Linked DNA regions of Homo sapiens. The protein of the gene in region 2 interacts with the protein of the main gene of each other region in a pairwise test. Each region holds a gene or a part of one and is shown on either strand. Other genes may lie near its edges. The genes, in order: BPIFA1, HCK, CCDC88B, CYB5D2, NOTCH2NLA, NOTCH2NLC and CTAG1A.

Region 1 (3,977 bases), 1.2 Mb from region 2:
AGGACAGCCTGGCCAACATGGTGAAACCCCATCTCTACTAAAAATACAAAAACTTTGCCAGGCATGGTGGCGCTCGCCTGTAGTCCCAGCTGCTCAGGAGGCTGAGGCAGGAGAATCACTTGAACCCGGGAGGTGGAGGTTGTCATGAGCTGAGATCACACCACTGCACTCTAGCCTGGGCGACAGAGTAAGACTGTCTCAAAAAATAAAATAAAATAAAAATTAAGTGAAAATTTAAAAAATAAAAAGGGACGCATGAAAGTGTAAAGTTCACAGGTGGGGAAATCAAAATGGCCAGCAAGTGTTGGGAGGCACCTTCATCTCTCAGTGCAGTGATTCGGGGAAAGGACCTGAATGTGGATGTCTCACCCCAGGCAAGCACTGCATCTCTGGACAACTTGCCTCACACTCAGCCTCAGTTTCCCCCTTATAGAATAGGAGTACAGGGTTGTGAGGATTTTGTGAGATGCTGCCTGTGAACACCATGGCAGGCCAGGCATACAGCAGGAGCTCGGCCAGTGTCTGCTGTTGGCGTTGTTTTTGTTGTTTTCATTCTCCAGTCAGTTGCATTCTAACTCTGCTGCATCCTCTCTGGGTCTTTCAGCACTTGTCCCCACTGGATCTCAGTTTCCTCCTCTATAAAAGAGGAGGAGTCACCTCTCCCTCTCAGGGTTCTTGTGAGGACAGAGAGCTCCTGACGTGCAATAGGGGCTCTGAAAACAGGAGACCCTTGCCCTGGAATGGAGACGCACCCCAGATGTAGGATGCAGTGTGACTCTTTTGACATTTTAGGAGAAAGAATCCTCCAACTGGAGCAAAAAAATTAGAGCAGGAGAGGAAAGGGGCCAAGAGATGAGACTGAGGTCCCTTCCTGGGCTCTGTCTGGCTGCTCCTTTCAATGCTCCAAGCTACCTTGGGAGCGTGGGTCCCCAACCTTGGCTCCGCTCAGGAAACCATAAAGTCTTGAGTAACATCCCATCTCAGGTTTTTCTCTGTTTATCTTGTTGACCAAATAGCTTAACTGTCTCACCTGCTAATGTGATTGGCAATTATTTACTTTGGAGAGCCCTGAAAGACACTGTCAGATTGCAGAATTCTCAATTATCTAGAAACCCATCACCCAACACATGCTTCCTCGTCCCCATACTATAAAAGAGGCTGACTCCTCGGCAGAAGTGAGTGGGGGAGAGAGAGGAGACCAGGACAGCTGCTGAGACCTCTAAGAAGTCCAGGTAAGAGCCATCCATTCTGTGGCCCCTCTGCTACCCTTAACGGCAGGGATCTCAGGCTCCTGCCCTGTGGGGCAGTGAGTGATCTTGATCACTCACTGGGGGCTGTGCAAGAGAAACAGACCTGGCCAATGTCAGGGATGTGGGGATGGCCATTTGCTCTGCTGTCCTAAGAGACCAGTAACATTGATATAGAAATGGGCACTATTAATGCCGTAAATGAAAGCCTCTAAGGCATAAGTTTTAGCTTGAGGTTACCAATGTGGATACAGATGATCCAAAAACCTCCTAAAATTCTTCACCCAATTTTATACATTTTGATGCATTTTTTCTGAGACTAGGATCTTTAGCTTCCATTGGATTCATAAAGGGTCTGTTGCCCAAAAGAGATTCAGAGGCTGTGGTCAAAGTTACCTCCCTAAGAAGGGCACAACTGGCTCTTTGGACCAAAGACCTTTCATTTCCAGCCTTCCACCACAAGGATGGAGCTTTAGCTGAGTCAGCCAATAGATGGAATTTTGCACAAAGTCACCAGTTGTCTCCAAATTGTAGGTACTAGTGCTGGCTCTGGACAACTCTGCTGGCTGCCAAATAGACCTGTGAGAGGTCTGCAAGCCAAACCTCAGGGGTTGACCGGAATTCCATCCAGGGCAGCTTGAAGGAGAAGAGAAAGGTGTCAAAATGATAGAATGCATGTTTGTGTGTTGGGTGAGGGGAGGGTTGGGAGACCTGCCTTCAACCACAGCTCTGCCATCAATTTATTGTATGACCTTGGGAAAGTCACTACCCCTCTTTGGTCTCCTGGTTCTTCTCATGCAATGAAGACTTTGATGGCCCCAGGAATTCCCCAACAAAGGTCTACATGAGATGGTGGCTGTGGCCATGCGACCCCTGTATTGTGTGACTTTCAAGGGCATCCACCAACCATCATGGCCTGAGCTCAGGCCAAAGGACTGAACAGGGATGATCTAAAACAGTTCAATTCTTCAGCACTTGCACGTTTAACCCTTCTCATTTGCTTTGTCTGAAGAGCAGCAATGATTCAAACCATTGAAGCAAGCCCGATTGGAGAATAAATCTGATGGTTACTTAATTTAACCGAGGGTTCACCTGGCTCTAGCTTCTAATCCTCTGTCCACCGTGTACTTGTGACCTTGGGGAAAGTTACCCACACTCGGTAGTACACAAGTGGGTTTCAAGAAGGGATGGGAGTATATTTGAAACTCCCAACTGCAAACTCACTTGACCTCTGTGAGCCTTGGTTTCTCCTACTGGAAAATCAGACAAGTGAACTGTGGGCAAGATGGAGTGAGGTGAGGCTGGGATTCTTGGCAAGAAGGAAAAAAACCCTCTTCTTTGGAATGTGGTGGAGTGGGGCTGTCTCCTTTTTAGGCCCCTGATCAGTGGTCCTCACCTGTGCAATGCAGGTAACAGGTGCCCATGTCTTAGGGTTGTGATGAAGATGAAATTGTGTAAAGTGGTCAGCCTGTTGCCTGGCAAAGAGAAATTGTTCAGCAGTATTAGCTATTACTAGTGACCCCCTGGTGTTCTGGGGAGCAAACAACCCCACCCCCCAGGTGTCAGGGCAGGTGGTGGATAAATTCCTCTCTGATACCCATGCCATGTTGGACTTGTCATTCTGGCCACAGATACTAAGAGCAAAGATGTTTCAAACTGGGGGCCTCATTGTCTTCTACGGGCTGTTAGCCCAGACCATGGCCCAGTTTGGAGGCCTGCCCGTGCCCCTGGACCAGACCCTGCCCTTGAATGTGAATCCAGCCCTGCCCTTGAGTCCCACAGGTCTTGCAGGAAGCTTGACAAATGGTGAGTTTTCAGGGGTGTATGTGTGCATGTGTGTGTGTGTGTGTGTGTGTGTGTGTGTGTGTGTGTGTGTGTGTGTGTGTCCAACCCTGCAAAGTGGGGAGGGACAGGGCTGGATGGGGGAGGGGGCCTGAGGATCTGGAATTGTCAGATCTGACCCCCAGAGACCCTTACACCCATTTCCAGCCCTCAGCAATGGCCTGCTGTCTGGGGGCCTGTTGGGCATTCTGGAAAACCTTCCGCTCCTGGACATCCTGAAGCCTGGAGGAGGTACTTCTGGTGGCCTCCTTGGGGGACTGCTTGGAAAAGTGACGTCAGTGATTCCTGGCCTGAACAACATCATTGAGTGAGTTGTCCTAAAATAGAGCTTTGATCTCCACCAGGGAACCCCAGGTGAAGATCTGCCAGCCCCAGGCAGTGACCCTGAAGCAGCGACCCTGAAGCAGCGAGGGAGCGGCCTGAAGATGGAGCCAGGACTCAGTTCTGAGACCCATCTCCAGTTTGGCAGGGACACCCGTCCTCCCCAAACCAGCAATGCCCTCAGTTCTAGGCATGTCCTGAGGCCCCAGCATCATCTATAATCCTCACCACAACCCTTTGAGGTCGATTTAATAATCTCCAGTTTGCAAATGGGAAAACCAAAGCACAGAGGTGCCTGTGTTCACGCTGCTAGAGTGATGCCAAGTGAGTAAGGCTCTCACTCTACTATCCTAACTCCAAAGCCAAGGCTCTTCCCACTACACTGTGGTCATTTTGTTCTCTGCACCTGTGAAATCCCTTAGAACACAGACGGCCTTTGATGTTAGCGAGAGTATAACCTGCCCACCTTGATGATATCAATGTGATGAAAAACAGTGTGATGTCCATGGAAAGGTCTAACGTGGAGTTTCCCATGAGACACCCAAGAGCTCGCAAAGCAAAAAGCAA
Region 2 (3,500 bases):
GAATGTTGCTCTGCTGATCTCCCAGCCGTCTCTGGATCAATGGCCTTTCTTTCAGGCCTCATGTTCTCTGCTGTAAGGCACTTCACTTGCCTTACTCACTATGCCTGGCACTTAATAAGTGTTCAAGAAAATGGAAGCATGAACCTTTTGAGGGAACAATAACCAATATTTTCATGTATCTTTATGTAGTCTTTTCTATGCACTTTTAAATTAACATAATTAGTATAATGCTACACATAGATTATTTTTATCCTATTTATTTGCTTAGTATTACATTGTAGCATTTTCCAGGTCATTAAAATGTTCTTAAATTTTTAGTGGCTGCATAATATTCCACTGTTTGCCTGTATTATAATTTGCTTAACCTTTCTAGCAGAGCAATCTTTTATATAGTTCAAAATTTTTAGAAATATTTTAATCGAGGTGAAATTCACATAACTTTATAAAATTAACTATATGATTTTTAAAGCGAACAATTCAGTGGTATTTGGTATATTCACAATGTTGTACAAACACTACCTGTCAGTAGCTCCTAAACATTTCCATCACCCCTGAAAAAGGAAACTTTGTACCCATTAAGCAATTACCCCCCATTCCCCCGGCCCCTGGCAACCACCAATCTGCTTTTTGCCTCTACGGACTAATTTATTCAGGATATTTAACATAAATAGAAGCATACTATGTGACTTTCTGTGTCTAGCTTCTTCCACTTAACATAATGTTTTCCAAGGTTCATCCACATGGTGGCAACTATTAGTACTTTATTCCCTTTGTGGCCAAATAATATTCCATTGTATGGATATTCCACAGTTTATTTACCCATTTATCCACAGATGGAAATTCAGGTTGTTTCCACATTTTGACCATTGAAAATAATACTGCTATGAGCATGCATGTGCATACATGTATTTGTTTGAGCACCTGTTTTCAATTCCTTTGGGTATATACCTGAAGTAGAGTTACTGGGTCATATAAAAGTTCTATCTCTGTGGCCGGGTGCGGTGGCTCACGCCTGTAATCCCAGCACTCTGGGAGGCTGAGGCGGGCGGATCACGAGGTCAGGAGATGGAGATCATCCCGGTTAACACGGTGAAACCTCGTCTCTACTAAAAAAATACAAAAAAATTAGCCGGGCATTGTGGTGGGCGCCTGTAGTCCCAGCTACTCGGGAGGCTGAGGCAGGAGAATGGCATGAACCCGGGAGGCGGAGCTTGCAGTGAGCCGAGATCGAGCCACTGCACTCTAGCCTGGGCGACAGAGCGAGACTCCTTCTCAGAAAAAAAAAAAACAGTAGTTCTATCTTTAACTTTTTGAGGAACTGCTATGCTGTTTTCCACCATTTTACATTCCCACCGTAATATACAAGGGTTTCAATTGGCTTCACATCCTTGCCAATGCCTACTATGTTTATATTTTATTAGTATTATTATTACCATTCTAATGGGTACAGAAAGCACGAATCTTAATCTCATTCAAACCAGGCTGCCCTCTGAGGGCTCTTACCTCAGAAAGTAAGGAGAAAGTTGTCTACATTCTAAGGACTAGCCAGGGCTTGGACTTTAAACTCTTCTAGAAAGTAAATTCTACAAGAGCACAAACATGTTTGTCCTATAAACCACTGTATCTTCTAACACCTGGCACCTGGCACATAGTAGGGCCTCAAAAAAACACTGATGGGACAAACGCAATGAATGTTGGACAACCTCCTCCCTCCCTTGCCTGAGATATTTCAGCTGCCCTCCCCGAACACCCCTCCACCCGCAGCGATTATTTTTAATTAGTTGCTAACATTTAAACTCAGGAGAGCTCACATAATCTGGATTTCTGTCTCCTAAAACATTAGAAGAGTTAGCAGCCCTGAGACTAGAACCCACGACTCCAGTGCTCTTCAGACAACCTCAGTGGAGCTGGGGGCTGCCCTGGGGGCTACACCTGGGCTGTCCAGCTTGCACAGCCCTTGCCAGGCCCACTTTCCTCATCCGCAGAACCCTCCACATCCCTATAGTCATTTGAGTTTTCAAACCCCACCCTTCGGGTCATGACAAGGCTTCCTTTTTTATAGAAAAGGAACATGAAGGGCTGGGTGCGGTGGCTCACCCTGTAATCCCAGCACTTTGGGAGGCCGAGACAGGCAGATCATCTGAGCTCAGGAGTTCGAGACCAGCCTGGGTAACATGGCAAAACCCTGTCTCTACAAAAAGTACAAAAATTAGCTGGGTGTGGTGGCACATGGCTGTAGTACCAGCTACTCAGGAGGCTGAGGTGGGAGGATCGTCTGAGCACAGAAGGTGAAGGTTGCAGTGATCTGAGACTGCACCACTGTACTCCAGCCTGGGTGACAGAGCAAGACCCTGTCTCATAAAAAGAAAAGAAAAGGAATGTGAAGCCTAGAGAGGGTAATTGACTTTCCCAAAGTCACACAGCAAGTTAGTAGCACAATCTCTCTCAGCCTCTTTCTTTCTTACATCTTTTTGTTGTTGTTTATTTTTCTTTTTTTATACCACAAGTCATCAAGCAATCACTTCTGCCTTTCTAAACAAACCCCACCACATGCACCAACCACATGTTGGTCCCCACCCCATTTCTCCAGTTTCCTCCCCCACAGGACTGGGAGTTTGAAGGTACTTTCAGAGGCGTGGGTAATGATGCAGAAGCAGCCTGTGCTTAAGTGTAAATGTGCCCTGGTCTTGGCCCCGGCTGTGGTCCCACATGCTGCATCCTCTGGATGGCACTGCGCTAGGACGTGCGCTCCTGACTCTCCCTTCGAGTCACCTCCCTGAGTTCCAGGCATCACCCTGAAATCCTTTGGCCCAGGAGATGTAAGTGCAGCCAAGAGAACAGGAATCCCAGCCTCATCTCTACCATAGAAATGAAGAACAGTGGGTACAGTACAGTAGACGACCCCGAGTCTGAGTGCCAGCTCTGCCAAAGACAGGTTGTGATGCACTAGGCAAATCTCTTCCCTTTCTGAGCCTCAGTTCCCAAATCCAAAAAAAAAATGGAACTGAGGCTGGGCACGGTGGCTCACACCTGTAATCCCAGCACTTTGGGAGGACAAAGCAGGTGGATCACCTGAGGTCAGGAGTTCAAGACCAGCCTGGCCAACATGGTGAAACCCCGTCTCTACTAAAAATGCAAAAATTAGCCGGGCGTGGTGGCGGGCGCCTGTAATTTCAGCTACTTGGGAAGCCGAGGCAGGAGAATTGCTGGAACCCGGGAGGCACGGTTGCAGTGAGCCAAGGTCTTGCCACTGCACTCCAGCCTGGGCTGACAACAGCAAGACTCTGTCAAAAAAAAAAAAAAGGGGGAGAACTGAGGAGGATACTACTCATGATTCCTGCAGCACAATTCCTTTTATGTCAAAACACACACACACACACACACACACACACACACACATACACACACTAGTCCATCATGGCGTATATGTCTTAGTTTGAGTTTCTCCAGAAGCAGACCCTAGGCAAGGTTTCAAATGCAAATAGTTTGAGAGCTGATTC
Region 3 (3,500 bases), on a different chromosome or scaffold from region 2:
ACTCCTGCCAGGGACCAGCTTAATGCCCTGCGCCGCGAGAAGCAGAAGCTCGTGGAGAAGATCATGGACCAATACCGCGTGCTGGAGCCTGTGCCCCTGCCCCGGACCAAGTGAGCAGCCCTGTCACCTCCCTCAGGCTGGACATCCTGCTAACCTCTGCCCCTGCCCTGGCCTCTGACCCCAGGCCCAGCTCAGGTCCAGGCCCCATGAAGGTCAACCTGGCCTTTGACATCCCCAGGACACCCTTTGCTCCCTCCCTCCTCCCTGTCCTGACCCCCTCTTGTGCCCTCTTGCCCCCAGGAAGGGCAGCTGGCTGGCAGACAAGGTGAAGAGGCTGATGCGGCCCCGGCGGGAGGGGGGCCCCCCTGGGGGGCTGCGCCTGGGGGCCGATGGGGCTGGCAGCACCGAGAGCCTGGGGGGCCCCCCGGAGACGGAGCTTCCTGAGGGCAGGGAGGCAGATGGGACAGGTGGGTCTGGGGGTCAGGTGGCCAGGATGGTCCCTGCCCCACATCCTCTGTCCCCCACCTTGGCACCTGCCTCACTGCCTGGCCTGCATGCGTGACCCCATTGGCCTTCCCTGAGGCCTGCCCCCCCTGCCCTGATGCCACCAGGGGCTCTTTTCCCTGGGTCCTACAGGGTCACCCTTGGCCCACACCTCCCTCCTGCCTGTGCTGTCCCCGACCCAGCCTGCCCCATCCGCAGCGGAGCCCAGGATCTGGGAGGTGCAGTGGACTCTAGGGAGAGGTCATTGTTCCTAGACTGCAGATGAGGAGACTGAGGCCCCGGGAGGGGAAGCTTTTGCCCAAGGTCATGCAGTGAGTTAGTATGAAGGCCAGCACAGGGCCAGTGTCCTGCTGCCCCACTCATTTGCCTGGCTTCTCCCCCACCTCTGCACCTCCCCTCCCTGGCCCTGGGCAGCTTCACCCACTGGCCCCTCTACTCCATCCAGGGCCCTGTTCCTCTGACCCCCTCCCTGCATGAGCCTCCGCCCCCCCCCTCTGACCCCTCCCCTGCATGAACCTCAGCCCCCTCTTCTGACCCCCTCCCTGCATGAGACTCAGTCCCCGTTCCCTTCCTCTGACCCCCTCCCTGCATAAGCCTCAGCCTCCCCCCCTCCTCTGACCCTCTCCCTGCATGAGCCTCAGCCTCCTCCCCTCCTCTGACCCCCTCCCTGCATGAGCCTCAGCCCCCACTTCCCTTCTCTGACCTCCTCCCTGCAGGAGCCTCAGCCCCCCCGCTCCCCTCGTCTGACCCCCTCCCTGCATGAGCCTCAGCTCCCTCTCCCCTCCTCTGGCCCTCTCCGTGCATGAGCCTCAGCCCCCACTTCCCTTCTCTGACCTCCTTCCTGCAGGAGCCTCAGCACCCCCTCCCCTTGTCTGACCCCCTCCCTGCGTGAGCCTCAGCCTCCCCCCATTCTCTGACCTCCTCCCTACAGGAGCCTCAGCTCCCGTCCCCTCCTCTCACCCCCTCCCTGCATGTACCTCTTGCAGGGTCCCCTTCCCCGGCACCCATGCGCCGGGCCCAGAGCTCCCTCTGCCTGCGGGATGAGACCTTGGCAGGCGGGCAGCGGCGGAAACTCAGCTCAAGGTTCCCGGTGGGGCGAAGCTCTGAGTCATTCAGCCCTGGGGACACCCCTAGGCAACGATTCCGACAGCGCCATCCAGGCCCCCTGGGGGCGCCCGTCTCCCACAGCAAAGGTGAGGGACAAGGGTCACTGTACCAGCCAGCCCCCCAACTCTTTGTGGACCCACCAGCTCCTTGGGGGAGGAGGCTTCCTTCTTGTCCCCTGTGTCTCCTGCAAGCTCTGTCCACTTCCGCACTGGCCCTGGGCCCAGTGGTTGCCTTGTGCCTCCCAGGACCTGGTGTGGGATGGGAGAACTCCGCTGAGACCCTGCAGGAACACGAAACAGATGCCAACCGAGAGGGTGAGTGGGGGACTGTGGAAGGAGTAGTATTCTTTGTCCTGCCTGGGGCCCCTGGCAGAACCTCATTCATCCATTCTTTCATTCGACAATGATCCTTTACCAAGTGCCAGGTGACGTGCTGGCAGGGGACACAGCAGGGAACGTTCTGGTGTGAGGAGGCAGATAGTAAACAATTTGCCTAAAAATAATTATTATCTACAACAGCCCTGTCCACTAGAAATATGGTGTGAACCACATGATAATTTTAACTTTTCCAGTAGGCTTACCAGAAAAAGTGAAAAGAGACAGGTACAATGGATTTTAATAACATTTAACTCAATATGCCTACGCTATTACCATTTCAGCATGTAGCCAGTGTAAAAATCATGAATGAGCTATTAGACGTGATGTTTTTTTTTTTTTTTTGAGATGGAATTTCACTCTTTGGCTCACTGCAACCTCCTCCTCCCAGGTTCAAACGATTCTCCTGGCTCAGCCTCCCAAGTAGCTGGGATTACAGGCATGGGCCACCACGCCAGGCTAATTTTGTATAATTATTATTATTTTTTTTAGTAGAGACGGGGTTTCACCATGTTGGTCAGGCTGGTCTCGAACTCCTGACCTCAGGTGATCCGCCCGCTTCAGCCTCCCAAAGTGCTGGGATTATAGGTGTGAGCCACCCAGCCAGACGTGATTTTTTTCATAGTAAGTCTTTGGCAGTTTCGGAGGCCAAGGCAGGCAGATCACTTGAGGCCAGAAGTTAGAGACCAGCCTAGCCAAAATGGTGAAATCCCGTCTCTACTAAAACTACAAAAATTAGCCAGGCATGGTGTCCCATGCCTGTAATCCCACCTACTCAGGGGGCTGAGGCAGGAGAATCGCTTGAACCTGGGAGGCAGAGGGTGCAGTGAGCCAAGATCACGCCATTGCACTCCAGCGTTGGTGACAGAGTGAGACTGTCTCAAAAACAAAAAACAAAAAACAAAAAAACATAGTAGGTCTTTGAAGCACGTCACAGGCCAACCCCATCTCACCTACTTAGCTCCGCCCTGGGCAGCTCAGCCCTAGACCCGGCTGGACCATCAGGAGGCGCTAATGCTCTGGGAAGAAAGGAGAGCAGGGGAGGGGTCAGGAGCTCAGGAGCTCTGGGCAGGCTGGTTGGAGTTTTAGTAACTGGGGTGCTGGGGTGGGCCTCAGAGAGGATGTGAAATTGGAGCAAAGACTTGGAGGGGAGAGTTTGTCGTGTGGACATACCTGAGAACAGCATTCTGGGCAGAGGGAACCGCTGAGGGAACAGCAGGCGTGGTGCAGCTGGAAGCGGGGGGTATTGGCAGGTCGGGGGTGGGCAGAAGGTGCTCGAGCCTGTGGGCCTCCTGGGACTCTGGGAGTCCTCCTGAGGGAAGCAGATCTCAGCTGAGCCTTTCCCTCTAGGCCCTGAGGTACAGGAACCGGAGAAACGTCCCCTCACCCCATCCCTCAGCCAGTGACACCGTGGGAACAGCAGGCTTGGGAGTGCAGCCTTCTCGGCACTGGAGTGTCAGCGGAGGCCCCAGGCAGCCCAAGAGCTCAGGGAGCCAGGGACCCCAAGGGGAGTCC
Region 4 (3,500 bases), on a different chromosome or scaffold from region 2:
GCTGAAGCAGGAGAATGGCTTGAAAGCGGAAGGCAGAGGTTGCAGTGAGCTGAAATCATGCCACTGCACTCCAGCCTGGGCAACAGAGTGCGACTCCGTCTCAAAAAAAAAAGAAAAAGAAAGAAAACAGATTCTTGAGTGGGGATGGTGTCAGTGGTTTACACCTGGGTCTGATGGAAACATCTCTGTTCCAGGCCGAGACGCATCCAGAGCTTTCGTGACCGGGGACTGTTCTGAAGCAGGCCTCGTGGATGACGTATCCGACCTGTCAGCCGCTGAGATGCTGACACTTCACAATTGGCTTTCATTCTATGAGAAGAATTATGTGTGTGTTGGTAAGTCGTCCATAGGTCATACATTTCATTTGGTTGTCTGCAGTGTTTTTAGGGGGCTGAGATTTTTTAGGGATTGGGTTCAAGCTTAAAATCTGAAAAACAGCCATGGATTTGTTTTACTTTAAATTCTGGTCGTTAGAATAGGGATGAGCCGCCCAGAAGGAGATGGATGGGCACCTGCTTCCCCCACTCTTAGTCTTGGGAGAGGATTACTAAGCTGCTTGCTTTGGCCTCAGTTTCGCCATAGCCAGTGGTTGCTTGCACCATCCTTGAACAACCAGCTCCAGAAGGGCAGCTTCCCTGTCTCACTGTGTTCGATGCATCTGGCTTCAGCACACAGCCAGAAGGGCTTGAAGCCTGAATTTGTGTTTCGACAAATCCCCTTTTATTTGGTCCTCTAGGAGGAGACAAACTTCGTGAGTGAGCTGTCTCCCAGGTGGTAGTTATGCTAATCAAACCACTGTGTAGGTTACTGCACTTGCTACTTACTGATGCTACATAAGGGACTTGCTTCTCAAATGAGACAACACCAAACTGTGTCCTAAAGCAGTGTTAAAGACTCTAAACACTAGGCCCGGCGCAGTGGCTCACGACTGTAATACCAGCACTTTGGGAGGCTGAGGCGGTTGGATCACTTGAGGTCAGGAGTTCAAGACCAGCCTGGCCAACATGGTGAAACCCTGTCTCTACTAAAAAATACAAAAATTACCTGGGCGTGGTGGCACGCACCTGTACTCCCAGCTACTCAGGAGGCTGAGGCAGGAGAATCGCTTCAGCCCGGGAGATGGAGGTTGCAGTGACCTGAGATTGCGCTACTGCACTCCAGCCTCAACGAAAGACACTAAACACTAGATTGCTTCACAAGTACTGACAACTGGGATGGCCGTAGCCCTTTCTTCTATCTATCTGCAGCCCCCACGTCTCACTGGAGTCCTACTTGGACATGACTGACTTCCTGAGGAACACCAGTATCACTTCACCATCGAAACAGGTCTAACTTGGAAGAATTCTTTCCTTAATGCCTCTGAATTTCTGCTTCTGTCATCACTGCTTGAGTTACCTTTTCTGAGAACCTTGGCATTTTTATTAACACCTCAGCTCCCTCCACATCCAATCAATCATGGCTTTTTCATAATATCTAAAGTTTGTGTCCATCCATTGTGGGCCTCTGCAGCACGCCTTTCTTCATTTTCTCTCGTATGCCCAAGATCAGTCTTGAGACCATAACCCTGTCTACCATCGAAGGCACTGACCTCTACTCACCTGCGCTTCAGAGGGCTGGGTTCTTCCCTTTCCCAATGAAGTTGCCAAACCAAGGTTGAAACATTACTGGGTTAATAAAGAAAAGAAAACCCAATAGAAAAGAATAAGAGCCAGGAGTGGTCTCTCACACCTGTAATCCTAACACTTTGGGAGGCCGAGGTGGGCGGATCACCACCTGAGGTCAGGAGTTCAAGACCAGCCTGGCCAACATGGTGAAACCCTGTCTCTATTAAAATACAAAAATTAGCCGGGCATGATGGCAGGTGCCTGTAATCCCAGCTACTCAGGAGGCTGAGACGGGAGAATTGCTTAAACCTGGAAGACGGAGGTTGCAGTGAGCCAAGATCGCACCACTACACTCCAGCCTGGGTGGCTGAGTGAGACTCTGTCTCAAAAAAAAAGAAAAAAAAGAAAAAGAATAAGAATGGAGTCCAGACCGGTGGCTCATGCCTGTAATCCCAGCACTTTGGGAGGCTGAGGTGGTCGGATCAGTTGAGGTCAGGAGTTCAAGACCAGCCTGACCAACATGGCAAAACCATGTCTCTACTATAAATACAAAAAATTAGCTGGGTGTGGTGGGACACACCTGTAATCCCAGCTACTCAGGAGGCTGAAGCATGAGAATCACTTGAACCTGGAAGGCAGAGGTTGCGATAAGCCGAGATCACATCACTGCATTCCAGCCTGGGCAACGGAGTGAGACCCTGTCTCAAAAAAAAAAAAAAAAGAACAGAGTCCTGTAAATGGGCAAAGAATGCCAGGCCAAATACTTCATACTAAGATTTGGGAGCACACTGGAAGTGTTCGGATGCGTTTGGTGTGACAAGTGAGCTGGTCTTGTTTGAATGATGTATAATGTGTTGAGGATGGGGTGGGGCATGTGGCGGGAAATGCCTCAGAAGGATTTTAGTTGATGTCAGGATCTTATTGAATACCTACTACTCATAAGTTACGGGTTCCATCCTCAGGGGGACCAGGGATGAATTGAGTCCAGTTCCTGCCCCTGTTAGCTCATTCTGTAGGATAGGGGCCATGTTAGGCTCTTTCAGGTTACCAGAAACCCTCAGGATACATCAGTGGATGAAGGTTTATTGTAAGGGTACATACTGAAGTGAGGACAGCCAGGAAGCCATCTTGGCAGCCAACATGGCCAGGCCTCAAGGGAAAACAAGATGGCCTTGGTTATGCTGTGGATACAGGATTGGCTTGGAGATGCAGCCACTGGTGATCACCATTCTCATGACACAGATTCTAGAACTCTTCCTCTGTTGCCTCTGCTACTACTGTCCTCTCTTTGGGTCTCATGTCAGAAACTCACCAAAGACAGGCTTGTCACCATATAACACAGACACCCCAACCCCCGTAGTGGGAAATTCTGTGCCAGGCCAACTCATAGACTGCAGGCCTGTGACTCGGGCCCTGATTCCTTTCTTTATTCATCTAATAAGTATTTAAAATGAATGCTCTATGCTAAGCTGTTTTATTTATTTATATATTTTTTCAGATGGAGTCTTGCTTTGTCACCCAGGCTGGAGTGCAGTGGCACGACTGCAGCTCACTGCAACCTCCAACTTCTAGGTTCAAGCAGTTCTCCTGCCTCAGCCTCCTGGGTAGCTGGGATTACAGGCATGCACCACCACGCCCAGCAAATTTTTGTATTTTTAGTAGAGACAGGGTTTCACCATGTTGGCCTGGCTGGTCTCGAACCCCTGACCTCAAGTGATCTGCCCGCCTCAGCCTCCCAAAGTGCTGGGATTACAGGTGTGAGCCGCTGCGCCTGGCGCTAAGCTGTTCTGAGTACTGCGCCTCACTAGTAGAGAGAGCCATCATAGACAAGTAAACAGATTGAACAACTCCACATAGGACCATGCATCAAACTGTGATGTAATACGTTTGGGAGCT
Region 5 (3,500 bases), on a different chromosome or scaffold from region 2:
ACAATCTGCAAGAAGGGGCACAGGATTGCTCCTCTCACAAAGACACTTGATAATACTGTCCTTGATAGGAAGAAGGAAGTGGCTTCAGATCTGAAAGGATATGCTCATAGGCTTGAGACGGGACAAACTGCATCACTGGTAGTGGTAGGAGGTTTGCCGTAGATCTGTTTTTTCTCCTGTCTCTCTTTTTTGAGGAGAATATTATCTGTATGGCAGAACATACATTGTGGTCTTAAAAAGGAGAGTAAAGCCAAGAAAGGGGGATGATAAAGCCATAGCTTGGAATAAGAAAAGCAAAGGAATTATTGTATTAATTTGTGTATGTAAATACATAGGTTTCCATGTAATTCACTGGTAGGATCACTAGCCCTTGGCACTAACATTTGCTATCTTTGTAGCTCTGCTGTCTTAGTGGTGTATTGGGGGAGCATTGTGGTGTGTTGTCACACTTAATTTGTGTGCTTCCCTTGGCATCATGTGGTAGCAAGTACAGGGTATTCTACTCTTCTAGATGTGTGGGAATCATTGACCAAGTAGAAAATATGGTCCTGCTCCCAAGGAGCTGACATCATCATGGAGACAAGACAGATAAGCACACAATTAGGAATATGAAATACAGTTATTTTATCATTTATCTATGCTCTCTGAAAGCAGTTTCCTGCAGTCAGGGTGACTCAGAGCTATAGGGTCTTGGGAGTAAACTTCAGGTCTTAATACCACCAGGGAAAGGCGACCTCCAGCTCACCCTTGCTGGGCTTGTCTGCTGTCGTGAGCTGTCTGCCATTTTCCTCTTTCTGTGTTGTAATTTAGAAGTATTAGAACTTGGCTTGGGGAAAAGACAAAAACCCCTTTGTCTGGTGAGGGTGTAAATATAAATTTGGCACATGTTGTGGTGTCTATTATGTCTGTTAGTGGGTTTGCGGCAAGAGAGAGTGCTGTGTTCTTAGTCCCGAATGCCAAGCCTGAACTAGGACAAGTTATGGTGGAAATATCTTCCTTGGAAGATGCAGTTCTCAGTGGCAGTGGCTGAAGGAACTTCTCGTCACAGCCAGGCAGTGACTGAAGTGTGGTGTGGACACACCCAGAGTTGCTGCCTCAGGTGGCATTGATTAATCATACTAATATCTCCCTCACCCTTTTGTACTTGTCTTGGCAAAACCCTGTTCTACTAGCTCCCCAATAGTTTGGCCTTTACTAGGTATGATTGAACAAGCTCTTGGGGGTTCACCTTAGTGTCCCTTGCCCCTCTCGCATTTCCAGCCAGCTACGTCGCTCCAGCCATGGTACCCCGGGTCCTCTGGCCAGGCAGTGAGGGGCTGGGTTTTTCTTCCCATTGGACTGAAGCACCTTTCCCTGGAGGCTTGCCTAGGGCAGTTTCTGGTCTCTGAGTCAGTTCCTTCTGCAGGATACTGGCAGCTGGCAGAACTCTGGGTTATTTGAATACATCAGCCAAACATCTTGCCAAGATGGACTCATTGTTGCATAACGACAGGTTGGATCTATGGGTGTTGCAGAACCTGTTTCTGGGTTAAGAGTAACTCTCTCACCTTTATTATATATGTTTATTCATATGATGAATGTATGTGTGTATTTTGTGAAGTAAGGAAAACATGATGATAATATTGTGGTTGGAGTTAGATACCTTATCCTAAATATGTTGTCTTTTTAACAAATAGCATTCCTTTAAAATACAGTTGTGCTTGATGAATAAGGTGTTGTACAAGAAGCTGTGGTTACATTCTAAAATAAACTGCCTTGTTCTGAGGCAGGCACGTTTTAAAATTGTTGTTTGCTTCTTTTTCATCTCTTTTTATTTTCATCTTTTTTTGTGTGAGAAGATTCTGGAAGTTTTTAAGCCTCAAATATTTTCAATAATCTATTTTAACGGGTACCTAGCAGGGAGAGGTTGTTCTATTGGTATACCTAACCAACATTCAAATAAGAATAATTGAATACTGTTTACTCACTAATCTATTCTGTTGAGTTTCTAAGTATGAATAATCACAAAACTAGATAGTGCTGATATATTAACTTCTCTAAATGGTAAATGTGGTAAGTAGCAAAGACATTTTTGTTTAATTCTCTCCTTACACATGCTTTGGTTCAGACGCTGTCAAGACACATTGAAGTTTGAGGACATGTGTATTTCGATTATTTTATTATATTTTTATTTGCTGTGAATATGGGTTTATTTATTTGCTAGATCTTCTTTAGTTAGAAACATTAAGGGCATTTACTTTATTACAACATTTAAAGTGCATTCTAATCTTCATGAGGAATTTTAGGTAAAAGACCGTATCCTGAGATTCATGCAAGTCTTTGGCATTATGTTACTATTTAAAGTAAGTAATATGTAGTGGCTTCTCTGACATATTCTTTCTAAGAGAGTTAAGGAAAATAGTTGTAACTAAAAGCAAACATTGAAACAGTTTAAGGTAGGTTTACGTAGCAACAGAATTATTCGTTATGTTTACAGATAATTAACTCATATTTATACTTTGCTGATTTTCTCTGGCACCTTTACAAGATTTTTTTATTTTTGTAATATAAAAAGTAATTATGTTTGAAAAAGTAGTTAAGGATGTTTGAAGAATCTAGAAAAGCATAAATAAAATGTCCACAATCATGCTGCCATTAATTTTTTGGTATACGTCTTTGGTTTTTTTACCCTTAGATTTAGAAAAGCTGTTGATTTATTTATATATATATATATATTTTTTTTTTTTAGTTTATGAACAGATCTACATATATATATATGCACACACACATAATATACTATTGTCAACACTAGGTTTTATTTTTAAAAATCTTTACCATTTGATAAGTGGTAAATATTACTTAATCTTAATATGCCTCTCTCATTACAGTGATATTGAATGTTTTTTCATATCATCAGTGGCGTTTGTATTGCCTTTTTTCCTACTTCTTTTGTAAATTGTGTCTTTTACTCATTTAATTATTTTCTTACTGGTTTGAAAAAGCTCTTTAAATATTAAGGGTGTTAGTCTTTTGTCTTAAATATGTCACAATATGTATGGAAATAATTAGCAGTATATAACATAACATCAAATTGCTACCAATGTTGATATAAAAATTGTTCATTTCATAGGTTAATTTTTTTTAATCCTTTGGTTTCTAATGATATTGGTTAATTCATTTGTTAACTGCTATTTTCTGTAGCTACTTGAAAGTTCTTATCTGACTGTATCGTAAATCAGCATGCTTTCAGCTGTATATGTCTAGGAAATTGACATTTACTTTAATACTTAATAAAAAAATATGTTGGAGAAAAGCAGTGTATTCTGGAGTCAAATACATGATTTTGGGTGGGTGACGTAATCGGCTACTGTCCTCCTTTTCTAGATAGCCAAGATTTTTGAAGCATTTAACATCCCTGAAAGGCAGGACTAATGCTATGTCTACCATGCACTGCTAATTCTGACACTTTGACCTAATGGATAAATGCCAGTACAGTGGGTCTAGCCAGTTAGCTTGGTCAG
Region 6 (3,500 bases), on a different chromosome or scaffold from region 2:
GGGACAGGGAGTTTCTAGCGTGGGTATTTGGGATGTACATGGTTGCTACGTATTTCTGTCAACAAGGTGAGCTGAAAGTACCTGTAGAATATCTCCAAGGAGAACATACAAAGGATAGCTAGAAACATGAGCCTGAATGTCAGGGTTGGGTGGAGCTAAGGGAATGATGGTGAGATTCATCAGCAAGCTAATGAAGACAGTGGCAGTGGAGGCGAATACAGACAGTGAAATTCCCTAGGGAGAGCTGTGATGTGGCTCAAAAGAGGGCGAAAAACAGTGCTCCAGGGAGCACAAACATTTAATGGATAAGAACAAGGTAATGAAGAAGCAAAAGGAACAGGGTTCAGAAAACCAGAAAAGCCAGTGCCCTGAATGTCTAGGGAGGGAGATTTCTAAAAGCAAATAGTCAATAACATCAGCAACTTTTCCTCTGGTGACAGTGTACTTATTTCTTTTAGTGAAGTAAACTCTGATTCCCCATCCTGGTGTACATATTTTTTTTTTTGAGACAGGGTCTCACTCTGTCACCCAGGCTAGAGTGCAGTGGTGCGATCATAGCTCACTGCAGCCTCAAACTCCTGGGCTCAAGCAATTCTTCCACTTCAGCCTCCCAAGTAGTTAGGACTACAGGTGCACACCACCACACATGACTAATTTTGTTTTATTTTTATTCTTGTTTTTTTGTAGAGATGGGGTCTTGCTATGTTTCCCAGGCTGGTCTCAAACCTCTAGCCTCAAGTGATCCTCCTGCCTTGGCCTGCCAAAATGCTGGGATTGCAAGCGTACGCCACCGCACCTGGCCCTGACATATATACTTTAAGCAGTCAAAGTATTTGGTCCTTTTTCTTTCTCTTTCTCTGCCCCCTGAAACTCTTAAAAGGAAGTTAGGGATAGTTGTCTGGAACATCCCAGTTCCTTATCATAATGTTAAATGTGCACCAGAGCTGGGGGACATTTAAGAGCCAGATACCATGATCTAAAAGATGCTAAATAAAGGTATCTGCTGAAGGTAGGAAAGCACTGGCTTTGGTCTCATTAGTTACCTGTAAACCCGACTTGACAGGTGCACTCATAGGTATCCCGGCTGAGCATATGGCATGTGCCGCCATTCAGGCAAGGTCGAGACACAAAGCATGGATGAGATGTCGAGTACTGGCAGTCCTCTCCTGTAAACCCTGAGGCACATCGGCACGTGGCTTTCCCCAGCATGGCCTGGGCCACACAAGTCCCACCATTCTGGCAGCGGTTCTTCTCACAGGGGTCTCGATGTTGACAATATTCCCCCAAGAAGCCTTCTGGACATCTGTATGGAAAAGAGAAGAGTCCATGAAAACACCTGACTTCTTGTAAGTCCAAAAAATTACAGTAAAACAATACAGTCCAATCAAGAAAGCACGAGATTGTGAATCAACAGACCTACAAGGACCACCTATAAAACTGCTTCCCTTTAGAAGAAAGAGTCCTTAGAGAACTTAACCACATACTCCCATGTCCTTTTGAGTCCTGGCAGGTGACAGAGTATCAGCTGTATGGTCTAGCAGGGTCTGCCATGGCCAGTCAACATGACCCTTATTCAAACGCAAAATGCACCCCAGCTTTTTTTCATGTGTGTACAGGTTGGGATGGTGTAACAGCACCTTTTTTAGAGCACTGTTCGTACTTGTCTGCTTAAATTCATTAACTTTCTCATTTTGACTAAGCCATTTGATAGGATTAAGATGTCCACAATATAATGCATGAACTTGACCCTATTATCCCCTCCAATTTAAAATATGTAAGGTATCATGTGCTTTTCCTCAATTAAGCATTGAGAAATAGTAAGTGCTTCTTTCTCTTATTTCCACTGAAACATCAATTGGCTGATACCTAGTTTTCTGGGTTATGTTCAGGTGGCTGACATTACAACAGAAAAAGGGAAAGGAGGTACAGGAATGGGGAAGAGTTCAAAGGGATATTTAAAAATCTGTTAATATTTAAGTAGGCATTTTTAACCAAATAAAAAGGCACAAAATATAATTAAATAACATAAAATATCTAAGATACCATATAAACACCAAAGTGAAGGAAGGAATCAATTGAAGAATAACATTCTATGATATTTTCCACATTGAGGCACTGAGGAACCTTTTTACATGCCACCCCTTGATTCATAAGATGTACAACCATTTCAAACTGTGTGTATTATTTATGACAATTTTCTCTGAACAATATCAAAAAGGCATGGTAAGTCTCCATTTTCATAATGAAGTTGTTTAAATGGAATCTCTGAGAAGCATTTAAATTAAGAAACACAAACACTTTGATTCTAACTATAAATGCTGCTATATATTTGGCTGGTGCCCCAAATATGTGATTCAACTTATTCCTCGTTTTAGTTTTCAGGGACTAGAAAACTGAATCTAGTAGGCTGTTCCACCATTACCTCAAAGATTACACATTTAAACCAAACTCTAAATCCCCCTCTCAAAAACCAGCTTTTCTGTGCCCAAGCCTTGTTGTCCTGATTTTCCTAATCATTGTGACCTGAAACATTGGGGTCATGAGTGCTTTTGTCTTTGACAGTCATATCCAAGACCTTTCATTAACCATTGGTTGGCAAGGCTAGCTAGCAGGGGTCACAGTTACTGAGAAAAGAAGGAAGGCCAGATACTAGGGAACTAAGACAGAAAATGCCCAGAAGAATTGTGTAGTAGCTAAAATGGCTAAAGGAGAAAACAGGGTGGTGAATAGCTATAGTGGTAGTGAGGTAACTGGCCACAGCCTCTTCACCCCTCCCAGAGCTGCATAAGATAAGCATGGCAGAGCAAGGAGCGGCTAAGGCTCTGGGCATCTTCATGAGTAGGTGTAGCTACAGACCAACAGGCAGTGAAGAAAGTTCATAGCACTGAAACCAAAGATGGCATGCAGGTGACTGTGAGGAGTCTGTATCAAGAAGGTCAGAAGGTCTGGTTTGGAGTTCTGGTGCTGTGACCTTGGACAAGTTACTTATCTTCACTGACTATCCATTTTCTCACATTGTAAATAGTTAATAAGGTCACCTACATCATGAGATTATTCTAAGAACTGAACAAAATCAAGTATGTAAAAAACCTTATAAATGTTAAAAAGTTTTGCAAGTGGGCTGGGCACAGTGGCTCACACCTGTAATTCCAGCACTTTGGGAGGCTGAGGTGTGAGGACCATCTGAGGTCAGGAGTTTGAGAATAGCCCGGCCAACATGGTGAAACCCTGGCTCTACTAAAAATACAAAAATTAGCCAGGGTGGTGGTGCACGCTTGTAATCCCAGCTACTCGGGAGGCTGAGGCATGAGAATTGCTTGAACCCGGGAGGCGGAGGTTGCAGTGAGCCGACGAGATTGTGCCACTACACTCCAGCCTGGGCAACAGAGTGAGATTCCATCTCAAAAAAAAAAGTTTTGCCAAGTGAAAACATCTTTTCTCTCTTCTTTGTGCTTATTGAGGAAAATACAATGCCCCATCCAAATCACAGCTTGATTTGA
Region 7 (3,390 bases), on a different chromosome or scaffold from region 2:
TAATCCTTCTATGCAACTATATGTTTGTCCCCATTAACCTCCCCACCCTCCCCACCTTTCCCAGCGTCTGGTAACCATCATTCTGCTCTACCTCCAAAAGATCAACGTTTTTAGTTTCCACATGAGTGCCAATATGCTTTTCCCAGGTGCAGAGGCTGCTGATTCCTGGATTTGGAAGGTGGGGGAGAGTGGTTTGGATTTCAGTACCTCCCCCTTCCTCAGGGCTAGGCCCTGTCTGGTCACCTCCTGTTGCTACAGGTGTGCCTGGCACAGACATTCAGCTCCCGGGGCCGTGCCGCCCTCACCCCTGCATGCCTCTAGAGGTACCTGTCCCGTGGATTTGACCCCCTTCCAGACACACAAATAGATCACCACTGAGCAGACACAGGGTCACCTCCCAGCTCCCTACCAGGCAAGAGCGACCAGGGCAGGGACTGATACTGCCGAACCCAGGAGCCAGGCCCGACCCAGCCTCAGGTCCAGCAGGTCCCGCCTGTCCACCTGGGCCAGGCCTAGAGCCCGGGAGCCCCTGGCTGGTGGGAGGCCACCCGCAACCCACCCCACACGCAGCTCCAGCTCCCCCACCAGGCGGGGCGACTAGGACAGGGACAGAACCCGTTGAACCCAGGAGTGAGATCCGGCCCCGGGTCCCGCTGGGCCCTCCCGTCCACCTTGGCTGGACCTGGCGCCTGGGAGACCTTGGCTGGCGCGAGGCCACGCCCACCAGACATGCAGTTCCAGCTACCCCACCAGCTGGGCGACCAGGACAGGGACGGAGGCTGCTGAGCCCAGTTAGAGGCCTGCCCCCCGGGGTCTGTCCTGGGCGCTCCCCCAAGGACGGACAGGGCAGGCAGGGTCCGGGACGATGGCCGCACAGTCCCGGCCCCGTGTTCCCAGGCCCGTCTTGCTCCTCGATGTGAGGGAGACCCGGGGGATGGGACAGGCTGGGCCCCGCAGTGCCTGACTCCCTGCAGGGCTCCCGGGACAGGGGTCCGGCGGACAGCCGGCTGCTCAGGGGTGAGGGGTCCAAGCTGGCATTGCGGCCACCTTCCGGCCCGGGCTCTCTTGGGGAGGGGCGGGGTTGGTGAGAACCGGTCACGTGCTCCGGGGCTCACTCGGGGTCTCCCAGGGCCGGAAGTAGGGCCCCTGTGCGCAGGCGCCCTGAGGATCCCGGGCTGCCCATCTCACGCCAGGGGGCGGAACTTCCTGCAGCCTCTCTGCCTCCGCATCCTCGTGGGCCCTGACCTTCTCTCTGAGAGCCGGGCAGAGGCTCCGGAGCCATGCAGGCCGAAGGCCGGGGCACAGGGGGTTCGACGGGCGATGCTGATGGCCCAGGAGGCCCTGGCATTCCTGATGGCCCAGGGGGCAATGCTGGCGGCCCAGGAGAGGCGGGTGCCACGGGCGGCAGAGGTCCCCGGGGCGCAGGGGCAGCAAGGGCCTCGGGGCCGGGAGGAGGCGCCCCGCGGGGTCCGCATGGCGGCGCGGCTTCAGGGCTGAATGGATGCTGCAGATGCGGGGCCAGGGGGCCGGAGAGCCGCCTGCTTGAGTTGTATTCTGTTCTGTTCTGTTCTGTTCTGTTCTGACAGTTCTGGTGGCGAGGTGGGGGCCGGGAGATGGGGAGGGCAGGGCCAGGTGGGGGAGGAGGCGGGGGAGATGCGAGTAAGTGGTTGGGTGGGGGTGGGGGTGGGGGTTGGGAGGTGGGGATATGAGAGGCCAGCTGCGAGGAGGGGAGGAGGTAAGGGCTGGGAGGTAGAGGGGGTGGGGGTGGGGGAGAGGGGCTGGGTGATTGGGTGAGGGGCACCGGGTCATGCGGGGAGGGGAGCAGGGGCCAGGAGATAGGGGGACCCAGGTGTAGGAGGGGATCAGGAGGTGGGGGGAAGGGGGCAAGATGGGAGCGGGTGGCGGGAGGTGGTTGGGATGGAGGGTCGAGTGATGAGGAGGGGGCCGGGTGATGCCACAGGGGGCAGGGTGGGGAGGGGTCTTGTAAGGGCATGGAGGAGTCAGCTTGGGGTGCAGCAAAGGAAAGTGGGGAACCAAGACAGCTGGGTGGGGTGTGCTACTGGGCCAGTGCCTGGGGAGACAGCCTGGGGGGGATGGGCTGGGCAATCCGGGGTAGGGGGGAGGGGTGGGGGAGTGGGGGAGGGGGAAGCTGGCCTGGGGTAAGCAGCAGGCCGGAGCCACAGGCCAAGTCCTAGGAGAGGATGCCTTAACTGGGCCCCCACCAGCTACCTCGCCATGCCTTTCGCGACACCCATGGAAGCAGAGCTGGCCCGCAGGAGCCTGGCCCAGGATGCCCCACCGCTTCCCGTGCCAGGGGTGCTTCTGAAGGAGTTCACTGTGTCCGGCAACATACTGACTATGTCAGTTCAGGACCAGGACAGGGATGGGGCCTGGGTGGGTGGCGGTCACAGCGTGGCAGGGTGGGGGCTGGGATCCGCCTACACCCCACGGTCAGGCTGCTAGAAACCTGGGAACACCCCAGCACAGGGTCTCAGAACAGAGACCTGGTACACCAGGCCCGCCGCCACCCGAGGGAGCCCAGGGAGATGGGTGCAGAGGTGTCGCCTTTAACGTGATGTTCTCTGCCCCTCACATTTAGCCGACTGACTGCTGCAGACCACCGCCAACTGCAGCTCTCCATCAGCTCCTGTCTCCAGCAGCTTTCCCTGTTGATGTGGATCACGCAGTGCTTTCTGCCCGTGTTTTTGGCTCAGCCTCCCTCAGGGCAGAGGCGCTAAGCCCAGCCTGGCGCCCCTTCCTAGGTCATGCCTCCTCCCCTAGGGAATGGTCCCAGCACGAGTGGCCAGTTCATTGTGGGGGCCTGATTGTTTGTCGCTGGAGGAGGACGGCTTACATGTTTGTTTCTGTAGAAAATAAAACTGAGCTACGATTCCGTGTCTGAGTCTCTTTTCGGCGAGCGAAGGCACCTTCGGACTTGCATGCCCTTGTCCTCGGGTTGCAGGGGAGGCTCTGGGATTCACAGATTGAAGTAGCACAAGGTAACGGGAGGCAATTTGGGAAATGGGGGAAAATGAAAAGCCACTGGGTCCCGCCATTCAGCATTAACTACTGTGGACATTTTAGAATATTTTCCTCAATATACTTGCATTTATATGTTAAATATATGACAGTAGCATATATAATGTTTTTCCAGGTCAGCATTAAATTTTTTCCCAAATTGTTTTCATTGAACATATGAGCTTTTTTACTTGGGAAAAATTCTTTGAAAACGTACTTGAATAGATGCATAGAACCAGCATTATCATATCACTGTTAAGCATGTGATATGGGTTGGGCATGGTGGCCCACACCTGTATTTCCAGCACTGTGGGAGGCTTGAAGCGGGAGGATGGCTTGAGACCTGCAGTTGGAGGCCACCCTGGGCAATGT

Evidence for each region.
Region 1: the proteins of HCK (region 2) and BPIFA1 interact in binary tests that used the Homo sapiens proteins (3 or more experiments, as listed by UniProt).
Region 3: the proteins of HCK (region 2) and CCDC88B interact in binary tests that used the Homo sapiens proteins (3 or more experiments, as listed by UniProt).
Region 4: the proteins of HCK (region 2) and CYB5D2 interact in binary tests that used the Homo sapiens proteins (3 or more experiments, as listed by UniProt).
Region 5: the proteins of HCK (region 2) and NOTCH2NLA interact in binary tests that used the Homo sapiens proteins (3 or more experiments, as listed by UniProt).
Region 6: the proteins of HCK (region 2) and NOTCH2NLC interact in binary tests that used the Homo sapiens proteins (3 or more experiments, as listed by UniProt).
Region 7: the proteins of HCK (region 2) and CTAG1A interact in binary tests that used the Homo sapiens proteins (3 or more experiments, as listed by UniProt).

The regions. Positions count from the first base shown.
Region 1 is NC_000020.11:33,234,819-33,238,795, forward strand, and holds the start of BPIFA1 (BPI fold-containing family A member 1 precursor), read left to right. Parts: upstream 1-1,177; 5' UTR 1,178-1,232; intron 1,233-2,878; 5' UTR 2,879-2,893; coding exon 2,894-3,053; intron 3,054-3,236; coding exon 3,237-3,396; intron 3,397-3,977.
Region 2 is NC_000020.11:32,055,242-32,058,741, forward strand, and holds part of HCK (tyrosine-protein kinase HCK), read left to right. Parts: intron 1-3,500. UniProt on the Homo sapiens protein: Non-receptor tyrosine-protein kinase found in hematopoietic cells that transmits signals from cell surface receptors and plays an important role in the regulation of innate immune responses, including neutrophil, monocyte, macrophage and mast cell functions, phagocytosis, cell survival and proliferation, cell adhesion and migration.
Region 3 is NC_000011.10:64,353,704-64,357,203, forward strand, and holds part of CCDC88B (coiled-coil domain-containing protein 88B), read left to right. Parts: intron 1-11; coding exon 12-110; intron 111-300; coding exon 301-467; intron 468-1,490; coding exon 1,491-1,697; intron 1,698-1,856; coding exon 1,857-1,925; intron 1,926-3,335; coding exon 3,336-3,391; 3' UTR 3,392-3,500. UniProt on the Homo sapiens protein: Acts as a positive regulator of T-cell maturation and inflammatory function.
Region 4 is NC_000017.11:4,149,697-4,153,196, forward strand, and holds part of CYB5D2 (neuferricin isoform 1 precursor), read left to right. Parts: intron 1-194; coding exon 195-335; intron 336-3,500. UniProt on the Homo sapiens protein: Heme-binding protein which promotes neuronal but not astrocyte differentiation.
Region 5 is NC_000001.11:146,219,022-146,222,521, reverse strand, and holds part of NOTCH2NLA (notch homolog 2 N-terminal-like protein A), read left to right. Parts: intron 1-3,500.
Region 6 is NC_000001.11:149,453,121-149,456,620, reverse strand, and holds part of NOTCH2NLC (notch homolog 2 N-terminal-like protein C), read right to left. Parts: intron 1,304-3,500; coding exon 1,044-1,303; intron 1-1,043. UniProt on the Homo sapiens protein: Human-specific protein that promotes neural progenitor proliferation and evolutionary expansion of the brain neocortex by regulating the Notch signaling pathway.
Region 7 is NC_000023.11:154,583,927-154,587,316, forward strand, and holds CTAG1A (cancer/testis antigen 1), read left to right. Parts: upstream 1-1,206; 5' UTR 1,207-1,280; coding exon 1,281-1,549; intron 1,550-2,225; coding exon 2,226-2,360; intron 2,361-2,599; coding exon 2,600-2,738; 3' UTR 2,739-2,890; downstream 2,891-3,390.